Linked DNA regions of Homo sapiens. The protein of the gene in region 1 purifies or fractionates together with the protein of each later gene. This does not show direct contact. Each region holds a gene or a part of one and is shown on either strand. Other genes may lie near its edges.

Region 1 (2,834 bases):
GACTTTAGAGATACACAATGGGAGCAAGAGGGAGAGTGAGGTCCTGTGAGCAATCTCACGGAAAACAGAAGGGCAGGATATGTCATCAGTGGCTCAGAGGCCTGGGGAAGAAACCTTGCTGCCCGTTAGAACATTAAGGAAACAGTTTCTGCCAGGTGCAGTGGCTCATGCCTGTAATCCCAGCACTCTGGGAGGCCGAGGCGGGCAGATCGCTTGAGGCCAGGAGTTTGAGACCAGCCTGGCTAACATGATAAAACACTGTCTCTACTAAAAATACAAAAATTAATTTGGTGTGGTGGTGCATGTCTGTAACCCCAACTACTCAGGGAGTCTGAGGCACGAGAATCACTTGAACACAGGAGGCAGAGGTTGCACTGTGCCAAGATCATGCCATTGCACTCTAGCCTGGGTAACAGAGCGAAACTGTCTCAAAAAAAAAAAAAAAGAAAAGTTTGTGAAATAGGGAGTATCCACTAGCTCCCTTCCCACTCCCAGGAGACTTTTTTGAACACTCTTAAGTATAGTTTATTGAATACAATATAAATACTTCACATTTGGCAGTCTATACACAGCAGCTCCAGCCTGGCTTCCCTGGACTTTTGCGCTCTTGCCAACACCACCCTGACCTCAGCTTGGAGACAGCAGTCTCCTTCCTTCCCCTCGTTCCCCCAGCCAGCTAGTTACCAAGTTCTGTCACCACTTCTCCCTCTCCATGCATCCTACTTCAAAATTAGCTTTCCCTGCTCACCTGTGTTCATCGTTCTGTCTGAATGATAAAGAGACAGCCATCTTTTTTTTTTTTTTTTTTTGAGACAGAGTCTCGCCCTTGTTGCCCAGGCTGGAGTGCAGTGGTGCGATCTTGGCTCACTGCAACCTCTGCCTCCCAGGTTCAAGTGATTCTCCTGCCTCAGCCTCCTGAGTAGGTGGGATTACAGGTGTGCGCCATTACGCCCAGCTCTTTTTTTTTTTTTAAACGGGGTCTTGCTAATGTTGCTGCTCATGTTAAACTTGAATTCCTGGGCTCTAGAGATCCTCTCACCTCAGCTTCCTGAGTAGCTGGGACTACAGGTATATACCACTGCACCCAGCTGTAAGACCAAGCCACCTTTAATGAACAAATATCCTTCCTGTTCTGCTAAAGTACAGAAACTATTTCTACTAGGAGCCAGTGGGAACCTAGGGGTTATCTGGAGCTTAGCTCCAGCTAAGTGACAGGAAAGGGAGGGTCTAGACCAGTCCCTGCTGATGTGCTGCTCCACATTGTCAAAGCCCAAGGAGAGATGAGGCCTCTGGGACCAGAGAGGGCCCTGGTGCTAAGGTGGTGGTGGAACAGAACCCAGCAGCCTTCAGCTGGATACTGATAGCTTCATCTCCTGAAGGCTTTCAGATGACAGCAGCTGGACCCACCGTTTTACCTACCTGTGTCCACTCACATGGGCTCAGGATGTGGACTTAGAGGCTCTCCTTTAATAAATATCTTATACAATGATTCTGTCTTTGGCTCTGTTTTTCCTGTGCAGGCCCGCAGAGTGCCAGGTGCCTCTCTCCCCTCCTCTACTATTTTGGCTCCTGCTATGAAAAGAATAGTAAAACTACTTTATAGAGAGGAGACGCTTTAGCTGGAGAACAACTCTGTCTTCCTAGGAACCAGGGACAGTCAATAACCAGAAAGGACAGAGGGCTAAAGGGCCTTGGCTAATCTTACTATCAGATGGGTGGCAGACAAGTTACCAGAGAGAAGCAGACTATCACTTTTTCACATGGTCAAAGCAGATAGGCACAGAAAAGCATCTATGATCCCCTGAAAGTCCTTGGAGATGGCACTGGATATCCCCAAATTTTCTTATCAGAGGGTAGAAAACTTGAAAAGAGTCTTTTTTTGAGACAAAGTTTTGCTCTTTTGCCCAGGCTGGAGTGCAGTTGCACGATCTTGGCTCACTGCAACCTCTGCCTTCCGGTTTCAAGTGATTCTGCTGCCTCAGCCTCCCGAGTAGCTGGGATTACAGGCGCATGCCACCACACCCAGCTAATTTTTGTATTTTTAGTAGAGACAAGGTTTCACCATGTTGACCAGGCTGGTCACGAACTCCTGCCCTCAAGTGATCCACCCACTTCGGCCTCCCAAAGTACTGGGATTACAGGTGTAAGCCACTGCGCCCAGCCGGCAGGTCCATGTTTTAAAAGCCAGATAAAACTACAGCTCTCTCCACATTCAGACGGGACAGCCAGCCCTGATGGAGCTGGGGTGAAATGCCCCCTTCAGACTGACCAGGTGCTCAGTACAGAAAGGCCAGGTGCCACTCCAGGGAATCTAAGGTGCCTCAAGAAAATGCCAGGTCAGATTTTCCTCAAGAAAGACCAGCCAGGCACAGGCTCACATCTGTAATCCAAGTGCTTTGGGAGGCCAAGAAGGGAGGATCGCTTGAGCCCAGGAGTTCAAAACCAACCTGGACCAACAGTGAGACTCTGTCTCTACCAAAAAAAAAACAAAAAACTAACCAAGGGCAGAATCTGATGGCAGCCCCTGAAAGAATCTGGGGGAAACTGGAGGATATGAGTGTGTGTGTATGAAGTTAACTTCAAAGCAAGCTTCCTGTGCTGAGGGGGTGGGAGGTAAGGGTGTGATGAGGCAGGGCTTCTCCTTTGGCAAAGCCTCTGTAGTCCTTCCTTAGTCACCAGGGAGTTGTGGGAGATATAGACCAGGGTTGCAGGTGCCTGGAGTACAGGGACAGCAGACAGGTCATGGTGGGTGAGGGGTCAGCTGGTGGGGCACAGATGCGTTTCCTCGGCAGTCCACATATTCATAGCTCTGAAAGACCAGCTGCTCTGAATGG
Region 2 (3,187 bases), on another chromosome or scaffold:
ACAATATGATATGTAAAATATCTGATTATCAGATTAGATTAAGAATAATTTTTAAATGGCATAAACCAAAGATTATTTCATGCCCCTTTCCCACTAATAAAATGCAAATCATGTCACAAGTATTTTACAAATTACTATTTGAATATGCCAGTGTTCCAACAGGTCAACTTTATAATCTTTTTCTCTCCTCTGAGGCTCTAGTACACATATCACTTCTCTCATTAGCCAGGAGGTCATTTATGTTGCCTGGATTTGCTATTGTGCTTCTAATTAAGCTATTTCATTAATCACATAGTAACTGTTTCCTGCAATAAAAATCATGTGCTGCATAGGACTTCAGAAGTGCATCACTACACTGAATTTCAGAGCACTCCCTAATTTCTCTTCTTTTGCAAAAATACATTTACCTTTAAACTGTTAATGTGTGTGTTTATATATATATATAAAATTCATTTAAATAGTCAATCTGATCCAAAGTATATTTTTACTGAGAATATATCTGAAAAAATTTGAATTGAGATTAAATTTTTAAATGAAATATATTTACTTTTTTTAAAAAAAGGTGTTTTCAACTTTAAAATGCAGTTTAGAAGAATGAGGATATTGATAGAACTGTTAATGTGTTTATTGTGTGACGTCAATAGTAACAGGACATTTATGTTGAATGATGTTATGTTATAAAAATGCCATGGAGCAAGATAAAATTATATGTATAGTTATCACTAAATCAATAGGCAAAATGGACCAAGATGTTTTGTTCCAGGTCATTTCTACATGGATTCATTTATTATTCTGTGCAAAAAAAAAGAAAAAAAAGCCAAAGTACCTATCTATTACAAAATATGACTGCTGTCTACCCCATTTAAACAAAGAGGGAAATTAAGGGTAATATGTAAAGCTGAATGGCAATGTTGTGATTCACTGTGATAGTGCCATGGAAAGGATTACAGGAGTAATTCTGTCCTCTCATGCCCACGTAAATGGTGAAAGGGATCACTAGCAATTCCTATTTCCATGTATTTCCAAATAAGAGAAACTTGAATTTAAAATCAACTGAGATCCAAGGTTGGATAAAATCTCTGGATACATGAAATATGGTCAAACTCCATCACAACATATTGCAATAAAAACTGTTCAGGGTATTTTTTGTACTAGAATTTTGTAGATGGAAGGTAACTTTGGTAAGGGATCATCTTCTGAAGTTGGCCATAAAAGCCCATCATGCTGATAATCAGTTTGTTGTAATGGTCTTTGACCTGTAGGAGACATGCAGGAAATGGAAGTTGCATGCTTAGCTAGCATAAAACGATTCCTGAGCAACAGTAAAAAGCATTCCAAGCCTTCCCCATCACTTTATAGCAAAGAGAACAAAAAGATGACAGTGAGGAAGCCTCACCAAGAGAAACACAACATTTCCAACATGCAACAGGTTAATTAGGCGGTCGACACAGCTTCTATCTGTGGAAAATTCCAAAATGGACAAGAAATCTAGAATGATTTCTTATGCATCTTTGAATTCCCTAGTGGAATGCTACATACCGAATTAATAACACATTGCAAACTGGGCTACTATGGAGGGCTAAAAGTCTCTTTTTGTGTGTACAAATATTGCAAATTTTCTTCATTGCTGTGGTAGATATTTAACAAGAACATAAAATAACTCACCTGCAACGAAAGACTGTGCATTAAAAAAAACAAAAACTGAGCTTTCAAGTGAAATAAAATAAAACAAATCCAAGCAAGGCAAGCCAGTGTGGACATTTGGAAACATCTGTTAATGGGACACACATAGCAAGCTGTTGTTCTTAAAGTTAGCCACCACAACCATAGCGGGTCCCACAGCTAGCAATTAAAAAACATTGATCAATTACCAATTACAGAAGTAGATCAATACTATGCATCAGAAGTAAGCCTCTCTTTATCAGATGGCTGAGCATGGATCTCAGCCTTGTGATATGTGGCATCATAATGATCTTTCTTATTTCTCTTGAAGAAACCACACTACAAGGAAGCAAGGTATTTAGTCAATTTTACAGTTTTGTGTATAAGAGCCAAACAACAGAACATCTCAAATTTTAATCTGCCTTCTACTAGTGGCTTGTTTACAAACAGACCACTTTCAGTCAACCAACAATGAACAGCCACTGCATTGTTTCATTGTCATATTCAATACACCCTTCACCATACATCTCTGGTCAAATATTTATATGGATGACACTAGTCAGCTCATTGATTTTTCTCTTTGTAACAGAAATCTTGTGGACAAAAATCATTCTAATAGGGAAAACGTATATACATTGCTGATTGTAGCTTTGGGTAGTTTCTTCCTGCAGGAGAATATGAACTCCAAAAGAGGCAAAAGATTGACTTCGGCAGTTTATTGAGACAAAGGTTAGAAAATAAATTCTCTAAATAAAAGCACAAATCCAAATAAAATATAGATATACTATGGGTATTTTTCTGCCTTTTACAGTAAATTTTATGGAACAAATGCCATTTACTTGAGGCCTTTGGATCTGTGGGGTGAATCACAATACAAATTCGAATACACCATCATGAAAGAATGATTGCTGTCATTTTCCCAAACTCTGAGCACCATAAAACCCTTAAATGGTAGGGACCCAATGCTCCTCAGGTTAGGTCACTCTAAATGAGTATAAAAGTATAATTCCACTTTCTACTATAATTTCCTTCGTTCAGTGATAGAGAACTTTTCCTATTTACTTTTATCTAGTTCATAAGGCCATGGAACTGTCTTTTATAAAATTTAACCTGGTCAAATAAAATCTCCTGAAAAACTCTGATTCCTAGTCCAGCAACTCATGAAGGTAAAAGCCTAGATTCACTTTGTACAATATATGGGAGCTGCTGGCTCCGTGAGGCTATTCAGATTGAAATTAATTTAAATTACATTTAAAACTCTGTGCCTCAAGTGAACCAGCCATATTCCACGTGCCTAACCGCCACACATGACTAATGGCTACCATACTGGATGCTGCAGCTCCAGAACATTTCCATCAGTATAGAGTTTTGTTGGGCAGCTTTCAATAATATGTGCTAGTAAATAGGGTGGGAAGAAGAATAAACCAGGAGCCAAGAGGCCTGGTCCTGCCTCCAACTTGGCAACATTCTTTCCTTTTTTTGAGACAGAGTCTCACTCTGTTGCCCAGGCTGGAGTGCAGTGGCA

The links.
Region 2: the proteins of TMEM106A (region 1) and ITGA6 purify together in Homo sapiens (co-immunoprecipitation; 2 studies listed by BioGRID and IntAct, with this or other methods). This does not show direct contact.

Annotation. Positions count from the first base shown.
Region 1 is NC_000017.11:43,217,708-43,220,541, reverse strand, and holds the end of TMEM106A (transmembrane protein 106A), read right to left. Parts: coding exon 2,741-2,834; 3' UTR 501-2,740; downstream 1-500. UniProt on the Homo sapiens protein: Activates macrophages and polarizes them into M1-like macrophages through the activation of the MAPK and NF-kappaB signaling pathway.
Region 2 is NC_000002.12:172,500,586-172,503,772, reverse strand, and holds part of ITGA6 (integrin alpha-6 isoform b preproprotein), read right to left. Parts: intron 2,002-3,187; coding exon 1,894-2,001; 3' UTR 1,872-1,893; intron 466-1,871; exon of another isoform or gene 1-465. UniProt on the Homo sapiens protein: Integrin alpha-6/beta-1 (ITGA6:ITGB1) is a receptor for laminin on platelets. Integrin alpha-6/beta-1 (ITGA6:ITGB1) is present in oocytes and is involved in sperm-egg fusion.